Linked DNA regions of Homo sapiens. The protein of the gene in region 1 purifies or fractionates together with the protein of each later gene. This does not show direct contact. Each region holds a gene or a part of one and is shown in the gene's direction. Other genes may lie near its edges.

Evidence for each region.
Region 2: the proteins of FGFRL1 (region 1) and FLG2 purify together in Homo sapiens (affinity purification with mass spectrometry; one large-scale study listed by BioGRID and IntAct). This does not show direct contact.
Region 3: the proteins of FGFRL1 (region 1) and ANGEL1 purify together in Homo sapiens (affinity purification with mass spectrometry; one large-scale study listed by BioGRID and IntAct). This does not show direct contact.
Region 4: the proteins of FGFRL1 (region 1) and BACH1 purify together in Homo sapiens (affinity purification with mass spectrometry; one large-scale study listed by BioGRID and IntAct). This does not show direct contact.
Region 5: the proteins of FGFRL1 (region 1) and AP3B1 purify together in Homo sapiens (affinity purification with mass spectrometry; one large-scale study listed by BioGRID and IntAct). This does not show direct contact.
Region 6: the proteins of FGFRL1 (region 1) and LRP2 purify together in Homo sapiens (affinity purification with mass spectrometry; one large-scale study listed by BioGRID and IntAct). This does not show direct contact.
Region 7: the proteins of FGFRL1 (region 1) and ANKRD17 purify together in Homo sapiens (affinity purification with mass spectrometry; one large-scale study listed by BioGRID and IntAct). This does not show direct contact.

What each region holds. Positions count from the first base shown.
Region 1 is NC_000004.12:1,021,626-1,024,511, forward strand, and holds part of FGFRL1 (fibroblast growth factor receptor-like 1 precursor), read left to right. Parts: intron 1-577; coding exon 578-850; intron 851-2,015; coding exon 2,016-2,096; intron 2,097-2,191; coding exon 2,192-2,476; intron 2,477-2,685; coding exon 2,686-2,886. UniProt on the Homo sapiens protein: Has a negative effect on cell proliferation.
Region 2 is NC_000001.11:152,353,507-152,357,006, reverse strand, and holds part of FLG2 (filaggrin-2), read left to right. Parts: coding exon 1-3,500. UniProt on the Homo sapiens protein: Essential for normal cell-cell adhesion in the cornified cell layers. Important for proper integrity and mechanical strength of the stratum corneum of the epidermis.
Region 3 is NC_000014.9:76,802,883-76,806,382, reverse strand, and holds part of ANGEL1 (protein angel homolog 1), read left to right. Parts: intron 1-1,380; coding exon of another isoform or gene 1,381-1,498; intron 1,499-1,967; coding exon of another isoform or gene 1,968-2,008; intron 2,009-2,470; coding exon 2,471-2,597; intron 2,598-2,901; coding exon 2,902-3,012; intron 3,013-3,500.
Region 4 is NC_000021.9:29,336,922-29,340,421, forward strand, and holds part of BACH1 (transcription regulator protein BACH1), read left to right. Parts: intron 1-3,500. UniProt on the Homo sapiens protein: Transcriptional regulator that acts as a repressor or activator, depending on the context. Binds to NF-E2 DNA binding sites. Plays important roles in coordinating transcription activation and repression by MAFK.
Region 5 is NC_000005.10:78,284,699-78,288,198, reverse strand, and holds part of AP3B1 (AP-3 complex subunit beta-1), read left to right. Parts: intron 1-3,500. UniProt on the Homo sapiens protein: Subunit of non-clathrin- and clathrin-associated adaptor protein complex 3 (AP-3) that plays a role in protein sorting in the late-Golgi/trans-Golgi network (TGN) and/or endosomes.
Region 6 is NC_000002.12:169,240,535-169,244,034, reverse strand, and holds part of LRP2 (low-density lipoprotein receptor-related protein 2 precursor), read left to right. Parts: intron 1-512; coding exon 513-632; intron 633-962; coding exon 963-1,079; intron 1,080-2,669; coding exon 2,670-3,047; intron 3,048-3,500. UniProt on the Homo sapiens protein: Multiligand endocytic receptor. Acts together with CUBN to mediate endocytosis of high-density lipoproteins. Mediates receptor-mediated uptake of polybasic drugs such as aprotinin, aminoglycosides and polymyxin B.
Region 7 is NC_000004.12:73,091,299-73,094,798, reverse strand, and holds part of ANKRD17 (ankyrin repeat domain-containing protein 17), read left to right. Parts: intron 1-570; coding exon 571-720; intron 721-2,498; coding exon 2,499-3,500.

The sequences.
Region 1 (2,886 bases):
CGTGCTCGGTTGCTTGTGGATAGCTGTGGGGTCGCTGGCCCATGCCCAGGCCCGGCTGGGCCCTGGGCTGATGGTTGGGTGGGAATTAGGTGAGGGGCCTGGGGCCTCTTTGGGACCCACCAGGCCCCCCATCCCCCTACTGCCCTTGTCCTTGGGGGGCCACTGTCCCCTCTGACCTCGGGTGTACGGCTGCTTCCTGTATGACCAGAAGGAGACTCTGCCCTTTTGGTTGGTGGTTTTCGAGAGTTACCAAGCGCAGCTGTTTTGCATCCTCTGGGGACCCTGCTCCCTTCTCGTGTCTCAAAGAGCCAGCCTCTGGGGCCACGGGGCTGCCCCGGCCATGAGAGGCTGCTGACGTGGTGTTTGCTGGGCCAGTGCTCAGGGCTTTGGTGCATGTGGGCAGCTGAGGCCTGGGTCAGGGGCACTGCACCTCGGCCCCTCTGCTCATCTTGGGCAGGTGACCCAGGTGGAGCTCAGGCCCGAGGTCTGTGCTGGGCCGTGGGTCCCCTTTTGACCGCCCCCCCGGCTCCGGACCCCAAGCCCCTCCTCGCTGACTGTTCCTCGGTCCCACCCGCAGGCCCCCCAAAGATGGCGGACAAGGTGGTCCCACGGCAGGTGGCCCGGCTGGGCCGCACTGTGCGGCTGCAGTGCCCAGTGGAGGGGGACCCGCCGCCGCTGACCATGTGGACCAAGGATGGCCGCACCATCCACAGCGGCTGGAGCCGCTTCCGCGTGCTGCCGCAGGGGCTGAAGGTGAAGCAGGTGGAGCGGGAGGATGCCGGCGTGTACGTGTGCAAGGCCACCAACGGCTTCGGCAGCCTGAGCGTCAACTACACCCTCGTCGTGCTGGGTTAGTCGCTGCTGCGGTCAGAGGTCATGGGCTGGGTTGGAGCCAGGCAGGGGTGTGCAGGAGGGCGGACGGGGACACACCTGGGGCCCGAGAGTCAGCCAGCCCCCGGCAGAAAGCCTTCCTTCGGTGCCCTGCCCCACCTCAGCTGGCTGCACCTCTGCCACCATCCCCCAGGTATCCTGTCCCGTTCCTGTCCCCGTCAGGCTCCAGCCTCGGAGCCTTCCTCCCAGCGGAGGGCGGAGGGTGGAGGGCGGGAGCCGAAGGCAGTGGTCCCACAGAAGGGCTGGGGCCCGAGGCCTTGGCAGGGTGTGCCGGCCGTCGGCTGTGACTTTGAGGCTCGGGTTTCGGAGTTCAGAGGAGCCGCCGGGATGCGTGGCCTTTCTGTTCTCTTCTGCGCCTGGGGCCCGGGCGCTGGGCTTGGACAGGTGTCCAGAGAGACACGCCCTCCATACCTAGGGACCCGGCACCCCGCCTGCTCCGCTGGGCTCCTGGGTGTGGGGCCCTCGGGTGGAGCTCCTGGGAGCTGGGCTGGCCCGTTTCTTTTTTTTTTTTAATTCTACTTTAAGTTTTAGGGTACATGTGCCCGTTTTCTGAATACAGGAGCCTGGCCCAGGCCCCAGCAGGGTCTGGGGGTGCGGCCTGAGACAGCCTGGTCCTGGGCTCAGTGAAGGAGCGGCTGTCACAGGGTGGATGGAGGGGACATTCCACAGCACGCCCTGCCCCTCGGCATTGTGTGGAATGGGAAAACTGGCTGTCCCCCACCCCCACCCCACAGTCCTTTCAAAGGGGACGATGACCGGGTGGTATGAGAGTCTCGTCTGTTCACCAGCCCTCGGCCCCTTGATGTAGGCTAGGGTTACTGCAGCTGCTGGCCGGGCCCGGCTCCCTCCTCCCCCGGGGCCTGCAGACCCCCCGGAGCCAGAATGGGGGCCGGCCCTCCAGCCCCACCCGTGCCCATCAGGGTCACCTGCGCCCAGTGTGGGCCAGCGGCCCTTGCCCAGCTGTCCCTGGGATTCTGGGCTGTGGGTGTGTGGCGCAGCCCCCTGCCTGGGTGTCCAGGGCTGTCCCGGCTGGGGCTGGGGGAGCTAGAGGCCACGGGGGAGTTGGGGGAGCTCCTCAGGGCCCCCCTCACCTGCCCTCCCTGTGCACCTCCGTCTCTCTGCAGATGACATTAGCCCAGGGAAGGAGAGCCTGGGGCCCGACAGCTCCTCTGGGGGTCAAGAGGACCCCGCCAGCCAGCAGTGGGGTGAGCAGGGGGTGACGGGGGTGGGGGGCGTCCGTCTGTCCCGGCCCCTTGGCTGCATCCCCGTCCTCTGACCTCCACGCCACCCCACCCCGCAGCACGACCGCGCTTCACACAGCCCTCCAAGATGAGGCGCCGGGTGATCGCACGGCCCGTGGGTAGCTCCGTGCGGCTCAAGTGCGTGGCCAGCGGGCACCCTCGGCCCGACATCACGTGGATGAAGGACGACCAGGCCTTGACGCGCCCAGAGGCCGCTGAGCCCAGGAAGAAGAAGTGGACACTGAGCCTGAAGAACCTGCGGCCGGAGGACAGCGGCAAATACACCTGCCGCGTGTCGAACCGCGCGGGCGCCATCAACGCCACCTACAAGGTGGATGTGATCCGTGAGTGTGGCCCCGGGCGCTGGCGGGCGGGGGGTGCTGGTGGGCGGGGGCGCTGGCGGGCGGGGGTGCTGGTGGGCGGGGGCGCTGGTGGGCGGGGGCACTGGCAGGGCTTGGGGGTGGTGGGCTGGGGGTGCTGGTGGGCCCAGGGTGCTGGCGGGGTAGAGTCCGGCGCGGCCCAGGAGCCATGCCCGCGTGCCACGTTCCCACAGAGCGGACCCGTTCCAAGCCCGTGCTCACAGGCACGCACCCCGTGAACACGACGGTGGACTTCGGGGGGACCACGTCCTTCCAGTGCAAGGTGCGCAGCGACGTGAAGCCGGTGATCCAGTGGCTGAAGCGCGTGGAGTACGGCGCCGAGGGCCGCCACAACTCCACCATCGATGTGGGCGGCCAGAAGTTTGTGGTGCTGC
Region 2 (3,500 bases), on another chromosome or scaffold:
ACAAAAGCTTGGGTCTAGCTGTTCAGGTTCAGGAGACAGTGGGAGGCGAAGTCATGCATGTGGTTATAGCAATTCAAGTGGGTGTGGAAGGCCACAAAATGCTTCAAGTTCTTGTCAGTCACATAGATTTGGAGGGCAAGGAAATCAATTTAGCTATATTCAGTCAGGCTGTCAGTCAGGAATTAAGGGAGGACAAGGCCATGGCTGTGTCTCAGGAGGTCAGCCCTCTGGATGTGGTCAACCTGAGTCTAACCCCTGTAGTCAGTCCTATAGTCAGAGAGGATATGGAGCTAGAGAAAATGGTCAACCACAGAACTGTGGAGGACAATGGAGAACAGGCTCAAGTCAGTCCTCTTGCTGTGGACAATATGGGTCTGGAGGTAGCCAGTCTTGTAGTAATGGTCAACATGAATATGGTTCCTGTGGCCGCTTTTCAAACTCTTCTAGTTCAAATGAATTTTCCAAATGTGATCAATATGGGTCTGGTTCAAGTCAGTCTACTAGCTTTGAACAACATGGAACAGGCTTGAGTCAGTCCTCTGGGTTCGAACAACATGTATGTGGCTCAGGTCAAACTTGTGGCCAGCATGAGTCTACATCAAGTCAATCCTTGGGCTATGACCAGCATGGGTCTAGCTCAGGTAAGACATCTGGCTTTGGACAACATGGGTCTGGCTCAGGTCAGTCCTCTGGCTTTGGACAATGTGGGTCAGGCTCAGGTCAGTCCTCTGGCTTTGGACAGCATGGGTCTGTCTCAGGACAATCCTCTGGTTTTGGACAGCATGGGTCTGTCTCAGGACAATCCTCTGGTTTTGGACAACATGAGTCTAGATCACGTCAGTCTAGCTATGGCCAACATGGTTCTGGCTCAAGTCAATCATCTGGCTATGGCCAATATGGGTCTAGAGAGACATCTGGCTTTGGACAACATGGGTTGGGCTCAGGTCAATCCACTGGCTTTGGCCAATATGGATCGGGCTCAGGTCAGTCCTCTGGCTTTGGACAACATGGGTCTGGCTCAGGACAATCCTCTGGCTTTGGACAACATGAGTCTAGATCAGGTCAGTCTAGTTATGGCCAACACAGTTCTGGCTCAAGTCAGTCATCTGGCTATGGCCAACATGGGTCTAGACAGACATCTGGCTTTGGACAACATGGGTCAGGCTCAAGTCAATCCACTGGCTTTGGCCAATATGGATCAGGCTCAGGTCAGTCCTCTGGCTTTGGACAACATGTTTCTGGCTCAGGACAATCCTCTGGTTTTGGACAACATGAGTCTAGATCAGGTCATTCTAGCTATGGCCAACATGGTTTTGGCTCAAGTCAATCATCTGGCTATGGTCAACATGGGTCAAGTTCAGGACAGACATCTGGATTTGGACAACACGAGTTAAGCTCAGGTCAGTCTTCCAGCTTTGGCCAACATGGATCAGGCTCAGGTCAGTCCTCTGGCTTTGGACAACATGGGTCTGGCTCAGGACAATCCTCTGGCTTTGGACAACATGAGTCTAGATCAGGTCAGTCTAGCTATGGCCAACACAGTTCTGGCTCAAGTCAGTCATCTGGCTATGGCCAACATGGGTCTAGACAGACATCTGGCTTTGGACAACATGGGTCAGGCTCAAGTCAATCCACTGGCTTTGGCCAATATGGATCAGGCTCAGGTCAGTCCGCTGGCTTTGGACAACATGGGTCTGGCTCAGGACAATCCTCTGGCTTTGGACAGCATGAGTCTAGATCACATCAGTCCAGCTATGGCCAACATGGTTCTGGCTCAAGTCAATCATCTGGCTATGGTCAACATGGGTCAAGTTCGGGACAGACATCTGGCTTTGGACAACACAGGTCAAGCTCAGGTCAATACTCTGGCTTTGGACAACATGGATCAGGCTCAGGTCAGTCCAGTGGCTTTGGACAACATGGGACTGGCTCAGGACAATACTCTGGTTTTGGACAACATGAGTCTAGATCACATCAGTCTAGCTATGGCCAACATGGTTCTGGCTCAAGTCAGTCATCTGGCTATGGTCAACATGGGTCAAGTTCAGGACAGACTTTTGGATTTGGACAACACAGGTCAGGCTCAGGTCAATCCTCTGGCTTTGGCCAACATGGATCAGGCTCAGGTCAGTCCTCTGGCTTTGGACAACATGAGTCAGGCTCAGGAAAATCCTCTGGCTTTGGACAGCATGAGTCTAGATCAAGTCAGTCTAATTATGGCCAACATGGTTCTGGCTCAAGTCAGTCATCTGGCTATGGTCAACATGGGTCTAGTTCAGGACAGACAACTGGCTTTGGACAACACAGGTCAAGCTCAGGCCAATACTCAGGCTTTGGACAACATGGATCAGGCTCAGATCAGTCCTCTGGCTTTGGACAACATGGGACTGGTTCAGGACAATCCTCTGGTTTTGGACAATATGAGTCTAGATCACGTCAGTCTAGCTATGGCCAACATGGTTCTGGCTCAAGTCAATCATCTGGCTATGGTCAACATGGGTCAAATTCAGGACAGACATCTGGATTTGGACAACACAGGCCAGGCTCAGGTCAGTCCTCTGGCTTTGGCCAATATGGATCGGGCTCAGGTCAGTCTTCTGGCTTTGGACAACATGGGTCAGGCACAGGTAAATCCTCTGGCTTTGCACAGCATGAGTACAGATCAGGTCAGTCTAGCTATGGCCAACATGGTACTGGCTCCAGTCAATCATCTGGCTGTGGCCAACATGAGTCTGGCTCAGGTCCAACCACAAGTTTTGGACAGCATGTGTCTGGCTCAGACAATTTCTCTAGTTCTGGACAACATATATCTGACTCAGGTCAGTCCACTGGATTTGGCCAATATGGTTCAGGCTCAGGTCAATCAACTGGCTTGGGCCAGGGTGAATCTCAACAAGTAGAGTCAGGATCCACAGTTCATGGGAGACAGGAAACTACTCATGGTCAGACAATAAATACCACTAGACATAGCCAGTCTGGTCAAGGACAATCCACACAGACAGGGTCCAGGGTAACTAGAAGACGAAGATCTAGCCAAAGTGAGAACAGTGACAGTGAAGTGCACTCAAAGGTCTCACACAGACATTCAGAACACATTCACACACAAGCTGGATCTCACTACCCAAAGTCAGGATCCACAGTTCGCAGAAGACAAGGAACTACTCATGGACAGAGAGGAGATACCACTAGACATGGCCATTCTGGTCATGGACAGTCTACACAGACAGGTTCCAGAACATCTGGAAGACAGAGATTTAGCCACAGTGATGCCACTGACAGTGAAGTGCACTCAGGGGTCTCACATAGACCACACTCACAAGAACAAACTCACAGCCAAGCTGGATCTCAACATGGAGAGTCAGAATCCACAGTTCATGAGAGACATGAAACTACTTATGGACAGACAGGAGAGGCCACTGGACATGGCCACTCTGGTCATGGACAGTCCACACAGAGAGGGTCCAGGACAACTGGAAGAAGGGGATCTGGCCATAGTGAGT
Region 3 (3,500 bases), on another chromosome or scaffold:
CATGGTCTAAGAGAGATTCAGGCGTTAGCATCAGTGCTTCTTCTGTGGCAGGGACCTCAGTACACCTGCTCTGGCCTGCTCCTCCTTTTTCTTGTTATGTTGAATAGCTTGTACCCAAGCCTGGAAGTTAAGAATTCTTGAGTACTTCGGCATATTGGAATTTTTTTCAGTTTTTATCATTAATATTTTTAATTCACAAGTAATACGTAAGTACATACTTGAAGGAACTTAAACATTATACAGTAAGACACAGGCCTGTTTTATTACCCACATTCCCTATTCTATTCTCTTAGAGTAACATAATGACCGTTCTAAGTTTGGTGGTAGTCTTTTAGCTTGTTTTCTTTGCATTTACAGTGATATCTATGTTCCTATGATATTGTAATCAGTGTTTACATTTGTTAAGCACTTAAGTGTGTGCCATGTGCTATTTTAAGCACTTTATACTCATTAACTAATTAGTTTTCACAGTTTCCATCATGGCTTCCATTTTATAAATGAGGAAACTAAAGCTCAGAAAAGTGAAGTAATTTGCCCTAGGTTATGCGGGTAGTTAGTGGTGGAGCCAGGATTTGTAACCAGGTGGTCTGGCTGCAGAGCTCTTACCCTCAAATACTGTGCTGTCATTGCTTATAACAGCCAATATGTAATCTACCATGTGTGTTTTATAAACATGATACACTACTGTATGTTTCATTTGTAGCTTGTTTTTTTTCACTCAGCAATTTGCATATGGATCTCATTCCTTCTAACTGTTGAGTGTTGATGACAAACACCTCGTAGTTTTATCAGCTTGTGCTGATTTCTTTATGTCACTTAATCTCCTTGTTCCTCTATTTTGCCCCTACTGTTTCAATTTATTGACTAACTTTTGGCAAGGCACAATGGTGGAAGGACACAAAACGATTGTATTACTGTTGCGCACATGGGATTTTATGTAAATGAGCCAGATGTGTGCAGAGAAAGGCATGATCTTGCCCTAAAGGAGCTGTAATCAAGGAACTCAGGGAACGAGGAAAAGAATTTACTGACTGCCTGCCACATGACAGGCACTGTTAGGCATAGTGAATGAGAGCACTTGCTTTGAAGCCAGACAGTCCTGAGTTCAGATCCGTGCTCTGCCACCTTGAGCAAATTACTTAACTTTTTTGAACCCCATTTGCCTCATCTATACGATGGGGGATATAATGGGACCTGCCTCAGAGGTGTTTTTTTGGGTGGATTAAATAAAATAATGCGTGTAAAGTGTTTTCCAGTATCTGGCTCAAAGTCAGTAACCGGTAGTGATTATTAAGATTCTTAATTGTACATGGTATTATTATCCCATTTTATTTATTTATTTATTTATTTATTTATTTATTTATTTATTTTTTGAGACAGAGTCTCGCTCTGTTGCCCAGGCTGGAGTGCAATGGCACGATCTCGGCTCACTGCAACCTCTGCCTCCTGGGTTCATGTGATTCTCCTGCCTCAGCCTCCCAAGTAGCTGGGATTACAGGTGTGTGCCACCATGCTCGGCTGATTTTTGTATGTTTAGTAGAGACGGGGTTTCGCCATGTTGGCCAGGCTGGTCTCGAACTCCTGAACTCAGGTGATCCACCTACCTCAGCCTCCCAAAGTGCTAGGATTACAGGCGTGAGCCACTGCGCCTGGCCTATCCCATTTTATAGTAGGAGATATTGAACCCAAGAGAGTTAACTAACTTGCCAAAAGTCACACAGCTATTAAGTGGCCATTGAATTGCAGATCTGTTTTACTTCTGATGACATATTGAAAATTTATGCCCTTACAGGGCAAGGGGATTCTGTCTATTGCTGCTCTATCCCCAGCACCTAGCTAGTGTCTTTTGGCTTTCAAATATTTGTTGTTGTTAAATGGCATAAAGGGACTTTTGCTACACACGTTGGAGATGTGCAGATGACTGATGTTGCCGAATGTTTCCCCTACTACGTTTTGTCCGTTCCCAGGCTGCTCATTGGCTTTGACCGAGGATGGTGACGTAGATACGGTAAAGTGCTTTGGTGCTTTCCCATTTGGTTTGACCCTGTGGTTACCCAGTAATAGGTTCAGGATATTAGACCTTGATCCAGAAGATCCAAAGATGAGGATAAACCTTTAACCATTGCAACTTAAAGCCCCTGAGAGTTGATATTCCCTGTGGAGGAGAATTGTATTGATTTTTCAGAGGTAAAATTTAGGGAACCACATGTTCATACTATTCGATTCCCCTTGATTCAGTCTCTTACCCCTCCTCCTGTTTCATGGACATTTCAGTGTTGCCAGTGAAAAAGTAATGGTTTTAATTTGGTCCTTATTTTTAACCTGCCCCTGAGACTTATATGCTTGTTTATACCATGTACGTAGTGTGTGATTGTATGTGTTTGTATTTGTCCACATGTCCCAAAACATGGGCTGTTACTTCCTTTTTCTATCTTGGTTTCCTTATTCCCACCCTTCTTTTTCCACCCAGGTATCTGGACAGGAAGACTTCTCCCATCAGCTTTACCAGAGGAAGCTGCAGGCCCCACTGTGGCCCAGCTCCCTGGGCATCACTGATTGCTGTCAGTATGTCACCTCCTGTCACCCCAAGAGATCAGGTGAGCACATGTCACATTCTTGGTTGGCTGTGTCTTCATGCCCATTTTGGGAGAAAGCTGGTGTCTCAACGACAAGAAAAAGTGTAATCCCTCATTTCTCTTAGCAGATTCCTCTGTTTTCTCACTATCCTCCCAATGGCTGTCCAATGAAATGGACAACTTTAAATCATAGCCTTTGGAAAATCTCCTTGTCTTCTGAATGCTTCCTCTGTGTACCTATGCTGGAAGTTGCTTGGTACTAAGGAGGTCTCAGCATGTGGCTTCATCGTCTTTCTTTCACTATATGTCTTTTCCTGGTTTACAGAGAGACGCAAGTATGGCCGAGACTTCCTGCTACGTTTCCGCTTCTGCAGCATCGCTTGTCAGCGACCAGTAGGACTGGTCCTTATGGAAGGAGTGACAGATACTAAGCCAGGTAATGGGAACTAATCCCAGTTTCTTGGTCTTCTTTCTTCCTCATTCCTGATATTGGTCAGTTATGTGGTTTCCTGCTCTTTTCTAAGTATAATTCTTAGAGATTAGCTTCTGGTAATACGTATATTTAGAAGGAAGGTTAGTTGAGTTCAGTGGCCATTGCATGGATGTGCAGTGTGATAAGAGTGCCGGACCAGGAATCAAGACACCTGGGTTGTAACTAGCTTTGAGAGCTTGGGTAAGCCATTTAACCTTTTTAAGCTTAAGTTGCTAATGACTAGCATGTGTACAGCATATATAGGGGAGAAGTTACACATGATGGGGCTTTGAAAATCATAAGGTGACAGTGGTTCTGATTTTAATAAAAGTTGTTCCTACTGAGAAATTTCAGATTGAATATAGCAGAGTATACTTGACATTCTCCCCTTCTTGTCTCTGAAACCACTTCAAAGCAACAAGGAGAATGGAAAAAAGAAATGTAAACTCCAT
Region 4 (3,500 bases), on another chromosome or scaffold:
TCAGCCTCCCAAAGTGCTGGGATTACAGACATGAGCCACCATGCCTGGCCTTTTCTTGTTTTCTCTTTTCCCTCCCTCCCACTCTTTGGAATCACAGTGGACTCATGGATTAATTTTTTCTGATTCAATTTGTTAGGATAAGTAATAGTCATTATTCTTTTTGATGTTGACATTTTTCAAATTTGGCCTGGGAGAGCCCGTTCAAGCCAGCTCCTGTCCTGTTGACATAACCATCTAGCACTTGCCATGGTCTCACTTTTTAACCTCTATTGTTTCAAGATTTGGAATCACCCATTTCTTTAAAACTCCTGGTTTCTTCTAGCAGTTATATTGGACTTTGGAAAGCCTACCTGCTGCTGGAGTATTATTCCTTCTGGGCCTTTTTCAGTGGACAGAGCTAGGAAATATATGCATCTGTGTATAAAATAAAGTTCATTATATCATGAATTCATATATATCAGGCTTCAGTAAATGAAAGTAAAAAGTACATTAGAAATCCTGAGTTTATGTAGTATTTCCAGTCCAAATTTAGCAGTATAGAGCTTTTGTCTTCACTTCTGTGTTTATGTTTAATCTCTCATCATTTACAGGAAAAATTTTGGCTCCAATTACATTAGTGTATTGTTTCCTTTATAATATACAGTAAGTTCTCACTTAACATGAAATGATGGATAATGAAACCAGTTTTTTTCCTCATCAACTTTATAATGAAAGGATGTTGTAAAAATGAGAACACTTGGACACAGGGTGGGGAACATCACACACCGGGGCCTGTCGTCGGGTGGGGGAGTGGGGAGGGATAGCATTAGGAGATATACCTAATGTGCCGGGTGCGGTGGCTCAGGAGTTCGAGGCTAGCCTGGCCAACATGGTGGTGCAAACCTGTAATCCCAGCTACTCGGGAGGCTGAGGCAGGAGAATCGCTTGAACCTGGGAGGTGGAGGTTGCGGTGAGCTGAGATCATGCCATTGCACTCCAGCCTGGGCTACAAGAGCGAAACTCCGTCTTAAAACAAAAACAAAAACAAAAACAAAAACAAAAAAAACGAGTTAATGGGTGCAGCACACTAACATGGCACATGTATACATATGTAACAAACCTGCACGTTGTGCACATGTACCCTAGAACTTAAAGTATAATATAAATAAACAATAAAATAAAAAAGAAAGGATGTGGAACAAAATGTTTATTGAGGACCTGGTGTGCGTTGTTTCTCTTAAAGTCAGTTTCCAAAAACCTGTCGATGATTTTAAGTGAGGGCACACTGTATAAAAAGTAAGAAAATTAGACAATCAGTATTACTATTAACAGTAAACAAATTGAGCAGAATTTGAGATTTATTTGCTTTTTTATGCTTAAATATTTCCCAGTGTGAAGCTTTAAAGTTATTTGAAATATTTGTGTTACCAATTTGGCATACAATTAATTTTTTTTTCTATTTATATTACTGGGATTTACTCTACATTTTTTGAGACAGGGTTTCACTCTGTCACCCAGGCTAGAGTGCAGTGGCACAGTCATGACTCACTGCAGCCTTGACTTCTTGGGATCAAGCAAATCCTCTCATATCAGCCTTCTGAGTAGCCAGGACTACAGGTGCGCACCACCATGCCCGGGTAATTTTTTTGTGAAGGTGAGGTTTCGCTGTGTTGCCCAGGCTCCTCTCAAAACTCCTGGGCTCAATCGATCCTCCTGCCTTGGCCTCCCAAAGTGCTGAGATTTTAGGCATGAGCCACCATGCCTGGCCTACATTTTTAATTTGTTTTATTTTGAATGTAAAACGTTTATATGGTTCAAACATTAAAACTATATTTTAAAAAATATATACTCCAAATCTTGATCTCATCTTCTCCTTATACCCTATTCATAGCTACTTCCTATAGGTAACCATTTTCATTAGTTTCTGGATTTTTTTTTCCCTGTGTTTCTTTTCTAAAAATGTGTTAACATTTTATGTCTACTCTTATTATCCATCCTGCTGCATGGAAGTATTTTATATACATTTTTCTGTACTTTTTAAACTTAAGAATTGATTTATAGGAAATATTTTTTCTTAGTTCAGAGAGGTTGTCATTCGTTTTCCAGCTCCATAGTACTCAGTAGTGACTGTAATACAGTTCAAACCAGTCTTCTGTGGGTGGACAGTTGGGATCCTGCAGTGAATAACTGTATACTGTTTCATGTTTAAGGAGCTGTGTCTCTAGGACACATTCCTAGAAGTGGGATTGTTGGATCAAGGGTAAATACATACATAATTTTATTAGATATTAACAGATTCCCCTCCTTAGGAATTGTCATATTTGGCCTTCCAGCAGCAGTATATGTGTGTGTGTCTGTCCACACCCTCAGTCAAGATTTGTTGTCAGCTTTTGGGTTTTTTCCAGTCTGATAGTGAGATACCATGATATCTCGTGGTAGCTTTTATTTTTATCTTATGAGTGAAAATGAGCATTTTTGCTTATATTTCTCAGTGCCATTTGCAGATTTCTCTGAACTGCCGTTCAGAGGTTTTACTTACTAAGGAACTATTAGTGACCATTTTCTAACAGTGAGTACTCTTTACCCTATCATAAAATTGTCACTTGTACTTTTGGTGCCAAATTCTTCTATATCTTTATTGGGTGAGTTATATTTATGATCTTTAAAAAAATTATATTTGAATAAATATTGTGCACTAGCTATTCAAAATAAGGATTTAGATGCAAAGGTTTTTTTTTTTTTTTTTTTTTGAGACAGAGTCTTGCTCTGTCACCCAGGCTGGAGTGCAGCGGCACAATCTCGGCTCACCGCAACCTCCGTCTCCCAGGCTCAAGTGATTCCCCTGCCTCAGCCTGCCCTTTTAGCTAGGTTTACAGGTGTGTGCCACCATGCCCAGCTAATTTTTTTGTATTTTTATTAGAGACAGGGTTTCACCATGTTGGCTAAGCTGGTCTCGAACTCCTGACCTCACATGACCCGCCCACCTCAGCCTCCCAAAGTGCTGGGATTACAGGCGTGAGCCACTGTGCCCAGCCTGTAAAGATTTTTTGTTGGTATAAAATCCAGAATGGTACCAGAATGCCAATTTTATTCCTTTTTAAGAAATAGCTCTAATTAAAGGTGCAGCACTTCAAACGTGATTTATACAGTTGTTTTTATAGGAAAATGGAAATATATTGTAGGGATAGGTAGCAGGACACTAATAGTGAGTCCCACTCATGACTGTAAGTAGTGACTTTGGGAGGTATCTTAAATACTGATGTCATTAAGTAATTAACTTGAATTACTTGTATTTTACTTTTAGTTATTAAGCTGACTGCTATTATAGTAAATATGTGTCTTAAACTTAGAGTGAAATGGAAACTGCTTAGAAGCTTAGCTGTGTAGGAGTTAAAGTGCAGGGGAACAGATGGGAACATTTAATTTATAGAAATAATTCTGGTGGAGTTCTAGGGCTGTGCCTATTTGTTTTAGTTGTTGTGAAGAAGCAAGCCATCTTGTATACTTAAAGAATGATGTCA
Region 5 (3,500 bases), on another chromosome or scaffold:
CTATTGAAAATTATTTGTTATAAGCCTTTGTTTGTGTAAACAGTGATTTACTGAAGAAAATGGAAATGCTGGAATTTTGAAATGTTAAGGACATTTTAGTTTGAGACGTTGAAGTGTTGGTGCCCTGAGTCATAAGCATGACATGAAGAGGCACGGGCTCCTTCCTCATTGTGAATTCCTTTCTCTTGTGCTCAGGAGTTCAGGGTTGCTGCTATGAAAATATGCTTCAGTCATGATTTTGTCAGCATACTGTTATACATCTGATCATCTTTAGTTATGAAGATTTAAATCTCTTGTGTTCTAATAATTCCAGGTTTGATAACTGATCTGTCTTGTTTATTATGTTTAGCTAATTGAAATTTATGGTCATTAGATCTGGTACTAGAGCTGTTAACATATTTGCTTGCTACATATGTAAACTGGATCCTACTTTTTTTTTTTTTTTTTTACAAGGGGTACATTAAGTTATTAGGAAATTTTAGTATTTTATTGATTTTTCACTAAATTTCAGCATTTGTTCCAAGGTGACTAAAAATAAAAGAAGAAACTGTATACTAGCATCTGCAGTGCATTCCTAGCAGCTGAACTAGTTGTTTTTGTCTTCATAAAAATAAGATCGTAAGTTTTACAAAGGGCCAACTATTCAAATTAAGGATTGTCATTTCAGTGGTGCAGTAGGGTTCCATTTATGATTTAATTCTTGAAATATATTTCAAATTAAATAAGATTTTACTACATTGAATAGAAATTTGATGAAATACTGCCTGTAAACAGAGTCTTACTTTCCAACAGATTATAAAACCTTTTATCTTATTTTGCTTTGCTTGCATATCTCCTTGAAGGAGAGTTGGTTCTGACTTCTACATTTTGTCTTAATAAATATTCAAGAAAATATTCTTTCTTGACAGTAGGATATGTTATTTTTAAAATCACTGATCTGGTAAAATTTGAGGAGAAAAATCTGAAAATTAAATTTCAAGCCTTACCATTAAATCATAAGATGTGAGATTTTATGTTATTTAAAAAAAATTTAGTATTTGGAGCAACATTACCAGAGCTGAATGATTAAAGCACATGAAAAAGGCAGACAGATGGTTGGTTGAAATGTTCTTTTTTGCTGCATGAAAAGTTATAAATGCTCATAGAATGACAAATGTATTACAGTGAAATAATTTGACAGTATTTCACTTGTGTATATAAATGAACTACTGACAAAAACAAATTGCCTGCAGTCCAAATTCAAAATTTAAAATGAAGAGCTTAAAGTAGAATAATCAAGAAGGAAATGATTTTCCTCTATTTCATATTATTATGAATAACGTTGGTTCGTGTATTTAGAGAAGGCTTATTTAGCCTATCAGCTGGAAAGACTTAATAGATCTACAAAAGTGAACAGTTTATAGCCAATATCTGTTTATTGATGGACTGATTATTTATATTGCTGATAGGAACCAGCCTAATTAGAAGTCCACTGTCTTTAATTCAGCTGAGTGAGTTGGCATGGTAGCTGGACAAATGAGAGAAGAATGAATAAGGCCCTGTCTCAGTTTGTTTTATGCTGCTATAACAAAAAACCTGAGACTGGGTAATTTCTAAAGAATATAATTTTATTTCTCACATTTTTGGAGGCCAGGAAGTCCAAGATTGAGTCACAGGCAGGTTTAGTTTCCTGGTGAGGGCTGCTCTTTGCTTCTAAGATGGTCTGTTGTTGCCGCATCCTCTGGAGGGGAGTAATGCTGTGTCCTTACTGGGCAGAAGGTGGAAGGGCAAGAGAATGGAAGACTGTGAAGCCTCTTTTGCAAGGGCCTTAATCTCATTCATGAAGGGAGGAGCCCTCATGACTAAATCTTAAAGGCCCCACCTCTTAATGCTATCATATTGGCCATTAAGTTTGAACATCTGAATTTTGGAGAGGACACATTGAAACCATAGTAGGGTGGTTCCAAAATCATAGGTTGGCAGAGCTAGGCATCACCCAACTTTATTCTTGGAATGGGTTTTCTGCAAGTTTTTAAAGCCTAGGTTGAGAATGTGGTCAAGAAGGATGTGGGGGAAATTAATTAGTAAAATATGAGGGCAGAGAGATAAGGGGCAGAGTGGAAGGCGGAGACCTGATTGTGTAGGGCCTTGTAAAATCATTGTTAAGGTCTTTGATTTTACTCTGAGTGAGAAGGGATGCCATTTGGAGAGTTTTGAGCAGAGGGGTGAAATGATTGTTTACCCTTTAAAGGGACATTTTGCCTCTTGAACTAGGAGTGGACTGCAGATTTGAGGCAAGGACCAGCAAGGAGACTATTACAGTAATTCAGGCAAGAGAAGGTGATCCGATTGGTGGTAGTGGAGAGAAGTGGGTGAGTTATGGATATATTTGAAAGGTAGAGCCAATGAGATTTGCTGATAGTTTGGATGTGATATGTGTGTGGGAGAAAAGATATCAAGGGTGGATACAAAGTTTTTTGCCTACACAGCTCGAAGTTTGGAATAGCTGTCAACTAAAATGAAGAATATTGTGCAAAGAGGAATTTTTTTTTAAAGGGGGAAAGGGACCAAGAGCTTGTGCATGTTAAGTTTGAGATGCGATTAGGCATCCATGTGGAGATACTAAATAGGCAGTTGGATATCAGAGTGTGGAGCTTAGAGGAGGAGTCAGGCTAGAAGTATAAATTTGGGAGTCATCAGGTATCATGGGATTGGATGAGACACTGAGGAAGTGAGTGTAGAAAAAGGTCAGAGTCAGTCAGTCCTGGGACATTCCTGGAGTAATTGTGTCAAATAATACAAATAGGTCAAGTAAGATGATTACTGAGAAGGGAGTTTTGGATTTGTCACTGGGTGGACTTTGGTGACCGTGACAAGCAGTTTAGGTGCACTGGTGGGGCTGAAAGCCTCATGAGTGGGCTCAAGAGAGAAGGAAGAAGAAGAATTGTGGTTAGTATTTTTTTTTTTTTTTGAGACAGAGTCTTGCTCTGTCGCCCAGGCTGGAGTGCAGTGGCGTGATCTCGACTCACTGCAAGCTCCGCCTCCCGGGTTCACGCCATTCTCCTGCCTCAGCCTCCCGAGTAGCTGGGACTACAGGCGCCCTCCACCACGCCCAGCTAATTTTTTTTGTATTTTTAGTAGAGACGGGGTTTCACCGTGTTAGCCGGGATGGTCTCCATCTCCTGACCTCATGATCTGCCCACCTCGGCCTCCCAAAATGCTGGGATTTACAGGCGTGGGCCACCGCGCCTGGCCATTAGTATATTTTTAAGTATAGAAGAGCAGAGAAATGGAGCAGCACTTGGAGAGGAATGTTATGTCAAGGAATTTTTCCTTAAGGTAGGAGAAACTGTATTATCTTGTTTGCTGATGGAACCAACTGATGTAGAGGAGAGAAAATAGATGATGCATTAGAGAGAAGGAAAATTGCTGGAGAATTGCTGATATCCCCTTTTTCTTCTAGAAAACTTACAGATACAGGTTAGCTGAAAAATAACAACCCTAATTTCAATATCCAGAAG
Region 6 (3,500 bases), on another chromosome or scaffold:
GGTGGGGCCAGCCACTGCATCCGACTCCAAGGCTATGGTCTTAACAGTAAGGTAGGACCCTGGTTTTTAGAATTGTTCTGTTCAGACTTTTAAATCCAGTTTTGGGGGTCTGTCTACACACTGTTGCTACTAGGCATGTGGGTCATGCTGGTTTTGTTGCCTGATTGGGCTCCATTGCTTGGCTTTGGTCTAGAGTCATGGACTTCATAGTATTCATGAAATGTAGTCCAAGTCCAAGCACATGATGCTCACTTTCTGAATGTGGTCTATTTTCCAAGGTGTAATCACAGTTTCTGACTCTGCCCTGTAATCTTTTTATTCTCAATTCTAAAACCTATCCTAGTTTTGAGTTCTTTTGCTTAGCTGACTTTGATAGTGTGGCTGATTCAAAAGAATTTTGAACCCATGTACAATTGAGATAACTTCTGTAGCTATTTAGCCATTTTTAGTTTGGCTCTGGTACTTGTTGCACAGGAAATAAACTTGTTGGTTTTGTTTTCGGATGACATTAGATTCGACAGAGACATGCCAACCTAGTCAGTTTAATTGCCCCAATCATCGATGTATTGACCTATCGTTTGTCTGTGATGGTGACAAGGATTGTGTTGATGGATCTGATGAGGTTGGTTGTGGTAAGTGCATTGCCTTCTTTTTTATTCACAATGTTTATTTAGAAAAATCTCAGTGTTAACACATGGACACAGGGAGGGGAACATCACACACCGGGGCCTGTTGGGGGGTGGGGAGCTAGAGAAGGGATGGCATTAGGAGAAATACCTAATGTAGATGATGGGTTGATGGGTGCAGCAAACCACCATGGCACGTGTATACCTATGTAACAAACCTGCATGTTCTGCATATGTACTCCAGAACTTAAAGTATAACAACAAAAAAGAAAAATCTCAGTGTTTAGTCATTTTAGCCCTGAGCTAATTTCTAATGCTTTTCTCTTTCATTCTTAGTATTAAACTGTACTGCTTCTCAATTCAAGTGTGCCAGTGGGGATAAATGTATTGGCGTCACAAATCGTTGTGATGGTGTTTTTGATTGCAGTGACAACTCGGATGAAGCAGGCTGTCGTAAGTAACACATACCCAGAATGTTTCAGACAAAGGGGTCATTTCATTTTTGCCAGTATTGATATTGATATTGCCACACATTTTCCCTAACTCAGACAAACTGGGGGAAAGTATCCTCAAAGGAATGTGGTATTGAACATACAGTAAAATTGAGTAGACATTGCCATATAATGTGTAATTAACAAATCAAGTGGTTGTATAAATGGACACTTCAAATAGTCTCTTAGATGGGCTAAATATTTCTTAGATATTTTTGTTTTCACTTTTAGTTTTTCTTAGGACTTCCCACTTTAGTAGGTTTAAACTTTTGAGGCTCTACTCCATATAAAGATATTTTACTGGTTTCTTTTAAGTTTCAGTAGAGAAGTCATATCATGGTGTAGAAATGGTATGGAGCTGTGTTTAGTATTGACTCTGATGAATTCATTCTTTGTGCTATTATGTGTTGAATATCTGCTAAGATGTTATCTATGGAGATTATAGAAGGCAAGAGACAATTAAGCAAGATAGACAGTTACAAGGGTCTTAGAAATGGCACAGATAAAATTCTATGGAGGTTCAGAGAAAAGAAATTTCTTCTAGTTGGAGGATTCAAGTAGGACTTCATACAGTATAATTCTGATGGATCTATAATCTTCACAGACTGGAAACCTATACTCACATGATTTGTTATTTGCCCACTTTTTGTTTTAAATGGATTTTAGACTTGCAAAAACTCATCAGTGAGTTGATCATTTGTTTGAACAATGGTGTTTTAGACCAAAAAAGTAAGTTTTCATGAATTCTCCTCCTGCGTCAGAAAGGTAGTGTGTAAAGCCATGGATTAAAAAGAAAAGTTAAATAAAATGCTTATATACTTTATAGTTTGCACAACATCTAGAAATTACTAATCACTAATTTTCCTGTTTCACATTAAAAACATAAAATTCTGTGATGAGCTGAGGTTAAACTGTCAATTGCCGCTGGCTTGCTGTTGCCTTGTGAGATCCCTGGTAGAGAGTTTTGGTTTACCCTTGTCAAATAGGGAAGCAGTTCTTACGTATCTCTCCAGGATTGCTTGATGAATAGTGGAAAGTTTGCAAAGAACTGAGTATTTACCATCATCTTTAGTTAGTGTGTGATGGTTTCATTAGGTATAGTTCATCTGAGGGAAAATAATAACACCCAAACATGATATGAAACACATGAAGTTCAAAGTAATCATAGCTATTTAAGCTCTATTGTAATGTTCTGGTGATTCTTTCATAGAAAGATAGATAAACTTTATTATTGAATCTGCAATTGGAAGTACATTAAAAACACAGGAAAAGGAAACAGGATGTTCTTTTGACACAGGTACTCATCTGCTAGTCAGCAGTTGTGCGTTCTGTACTTCGTTTGTTGTCAGAGCCACTAGCTGCCACAAAGAAATATTTCTATGTACTAGAGTGTGGGAGAAGACTCTATATCATTTAGCCTTAAATATTAATTTGGTCATAGTTGTTACTATAAACCTACTATTGGATCCAAAATCATTTCCTCTGAGTCTAGACTATAAAAGGGATCACAAATTACATTCACAAGCCGATTTACCCCATGTTTTCCTTCTAGCAACCAGGCCTCCTGGTATGTGCCACTCAGATGAATTTCAGTGCCAAGAAGATGGTATCTGCATCCCGAACTTCTGGGAATGTGATGGGCATCCAGACTGCCTCTATGGATCTGATGAGCACAATGCCTGTGTCCCCAAGACTTGCCCTTCATCATATTTCCACTGTGACAACGGAAACTGCATCCACAGGGCATGGCTCTGTGATCGGGACAATGACTGCGGGGATATGAGTGATGAGAAGGACTGCCCTACTCAGCCCTTTCGCTGTCCTAGTTGGCAATGGCAGTGTCTTGGCCATAACATCTGTGTGAATCTGAGTGTAGTGTGTGATGGCATCTTTGACTGCCCCAATGGGACAGATGAGTCCCCACTTTGCAGTAAGTTTCCTGACCACAGTTTACTGGCCATAAACTCATTCTGAACAGTAGCCTGGTGTGCATCACCATTGTCACAGTCACTGTGTAGCTTTGTAGGAAGGATTTCAGTTCCTCTATGAGTTCACATCTGTGTAGGGGGTAACCATAATTGAATTCAAATACATCACCATTGGATAATTTTCTGATTAAATCCTTTGTACTTGGTTATGTGTTTTTACTTCTTTTTATGTCTTTGTTTCAAAAAATGAGACTAAATTGAGGCCATTAGATTGTCAAATTAAATTTGGTTCTGTTGGTAATGTGCTCATTAATTTTTCTAACTTTAATATTTTCTAATTTCAATCAGAACTTATCACAAAAAAATGAAGTCCAGGGATTTGTGTTGCTGTGATTAAAGTGCTGTGATTGGCATGTAATCCTAATTACTGTCATTTCTTTCTTTCCTCTTTAATC
Region 7 (3,500 bases), about 72 Mb from region 1:
CTTTCTTGACTCTTGAGGCTAGATTAGATGCCCAACCAGTATATATACACACACACATATAATATATATATATACACATATATACATGTATATATTATACGTATATACATATATATGTCTATATATACATATATGTATATATAATACATTTGTGTGTGTGTACACACATACTATTGCAACACTCATGACATGGTGGTGTTTTCATAATTAGCGTGTAGATAGTCAATATATGTGGGCAGAAACCCATGTCTGTCTTATTTACCGTTAGTATTTGCATTAGCACAGCACGTGTCTACATAGTATGTGCTTTACCGATACAAGTGAAGAATGATAATCAACAAAGCAAACAATCTTTGATAGTGAGATGAGAAGCTATAATAAAGCTTATCTGTCTGTTGCTCCTGATTGCCTTTTCTCTGTTCATCTAGAGTAAGAGTAAATAGAAGAGGCTTATTCAACAATATTCTGTATTTATAGAAAGACATTTTAGTAATACTCTTTCCTCTTTTAAAAATTACAATAACTATTGTTAATGACTAATCTTAATTTATATATACAACTTTTAAACAGGTCAAAGAAAGTATCTGTTCCATCAACTGTGATATCCAGAGTGATTGGAAGAGGAGGCTGTAATATCAATGCTATTCGGGAGTTTACTGGTGCACACATAGATATTGATAAACAGAAAGACAAGACTGGAGACCGGATAATCACTATAAGGCAAAACTTTGTCTCTTACATTTTCTTCCTTTATTTTATTGCACTATAGCTTAATGAAATACAGCCATATGAGTTTTCAGTGGAACTTTGTGTTACATAGTATACTTTTTAAAATGGGAATTTTATTAGTGTTTGAGAAGATAAATTTTATAGTTTTCTTTTTTCCTAGGTAATACACTTTTGTGAAGTGTTTCAGAGACTTTTATAGGAATTTGTATGCATGTGTAGCAAAGGTTTAAATAAATAATTTCTGTACATAAACTGTTTATATGACATTCTTAAAAATTTGTTCTGAGACTTTTAGGGAGCGCATTTCTAACATTTTAAGCAGTGGGTTTTTGTCTTTCTCAAATAACCTTTGAGATTTGTTATTCTGAGATTGTGTCTTTAGAATTTGAGTTCTTGGGCTGGGCACGGTGGCTCACGCCTGTAATCCCAGCACTTTGGGAGGCTGAGGCGGGCGGATCACCTGAGGTCAGGAGTTCGAGACCAGCCTCAACATGGGGAAACCCCGTCTCTACTAAAAATACAAAATTAGCCGGGCATAGTGGTGCATGCTTGTAATCTCAGCTACTCGGGAGGCTGAGGCAGGAGAATTGCTTGAACCTGGGAGGCAGAGGTTGCGGTGAGCCGAGATCGAGCCATTGGACTCCAGCCTGGGCAACAAGAGTGAAACTCCCTCAAAAAAAAAAAAAAAAAAAAGAATTTGAGTTCAGATTTGAATCTGAAGTGAAGATATAACTTATCTTGAATAACTCGTCGAATATGTCTATGCCTGAATATTCTTAAAATAAAAGTGATGTTCTAAGAAATCATAAGAATGTAGGAAGCTATATTTAATTACTTTAAAGTAAATTCATGTTCCTTTGAAAAAGAGTTTTATATTTTTTACATGGCAGATATAAGTTTGTATGAGGCAGATGCCCCTTTGCATTATATAGGAGAGCTAATAGTTACATCATACCTCAAAAATAAGAAAGCAAGTAGCCATCTCTATTTTATTCATCGTCCTCTCCTTCTGACTGGTTTTCCCCTGGGTATTTGGGTAGTCACAGCCTATCTTATCTAGAAAAGAGGGAACCAGATACCCTTTATTGGTAATTGCTCCCTTGAGTTTCCATAAATATCAAATATTTTCCTGAAGATCCAGCACTAAGGTTTTATATGGCTATTTTTGGCACTATCAGGATTCCTGCATCATTTTAAGACATCTTCCCAGAGGAGTTACAATAATTATCCTATTAATAGACAAACTACTAATGAATTTTTAGTAGACGGAGTCATCCCAGATACCAAGATTTAAAATAAAATACTGTTTTCTTACTCAGTTGTATTATTTTCCTTGTTTACTTCTATTATTTTTAGTGTTGATTAACTGTTTCAATATTTTTAGGATTAAATGTTTCAATAACATTGTGGATTACATAGGCTTTTATGTGCAGTGGTTTTTCTAACTGTAGTGTATTTTACAGTAGGAAAATGGTTTCTTAGTCTAAGGAAACAATAGTGAAATGTATTTTTGAAAAATAAGTCATTTACTATTCTTCTGAAAAATAAAAGTAGTAATTCAGGACAGTTTATTGCTTTGTTTGTAGAATACCTCAGGAATGGTAAGAAAATTGCTGCCCAGCTTTTGTTATCTGTCCTTTGTTTGTATGTGTGTATGTATATACACACAAAACTGTGTGTGTGTTTGTGTACATAAATACATATTAAAAACACTTTACATACTCAAAAGTAGGGAAAATTCTACCTAATTTTTTTTTCTCAATTTATAGGGGTGGCACTGAATCAACAAGACAAGCAACTCAATTGATTAATGCTTTGATCAAGGATCCAGACAAAGAAATTGATGAACTTATTCCAAAGAATCGTTTGAAAAGCTCCTCAGCAAATTCCAAAATAGGGTCATCAGCACCTACCACCACTGCTGCTAACACTTCCTTAATGGGAATTAAAATGACAACTGTAGCTCTGTCATCAACATCTCAAACTGCCACAGCACTCACTGTGCCTGCAATTTCTTCTGCATCCACTCACAAAACCATTAAGAACCCAGTGAATAATGTGAGGCCTGGTTTTCCAGTTTCTCTTCCATTAGCATATCCTCCTCCACAGTTTGCACATGCTTTGCTTGCTGCTCAGACTTTCCAGCAGATCCGTCCACCAAGGTTGCCCATGACCCACTTTGGAGGTACTTTTCCACCAGCTCAATCCACTTGGGGTCCGTTTCCTGTCAGGCCTTTGAGCCCTGCCAGAGCTACTAACTCGCCTAAGCCTCACATGGTGCCTCGCCATAGCAATCAGAATAGCAGTGGTTCTCAGGTGAATTCAGCAGGTTCTTTAACTTCAAGCCCAACAACTACAACCAGTTCATCAGCTTCAACGGTGCCTGGTACATCTACAAATGGCAGTCCAAGTTCACCTTCTGTCCGAAGGCAGCTTTTTGTCACAGTTGTGAAGACATCCAATGCCACCACAACAACAGTCACAACCACGGCAAGCAACAACAACACTGCACCCACAAATGCCACATATCCTATGCCTACTGCCAAAGAACACTATCCAGTATCATCCCCATCTTCCCCATCACCACCAGCCCAGCCAGGAGGGGTTTCTAGAAACAGCCCTTTGGATTGTGGATCAGCATCTCCAAATAAAGTGGCATCTTCCTCCGAACAGGAAGCAGGTAGTCCACCAGTAGTAGAAACAACAAACACTAGACCTCCAAACAGCAGCAGTTCTTCTGGGAGTTCATCAGCTCATTCTAATCAGCAACA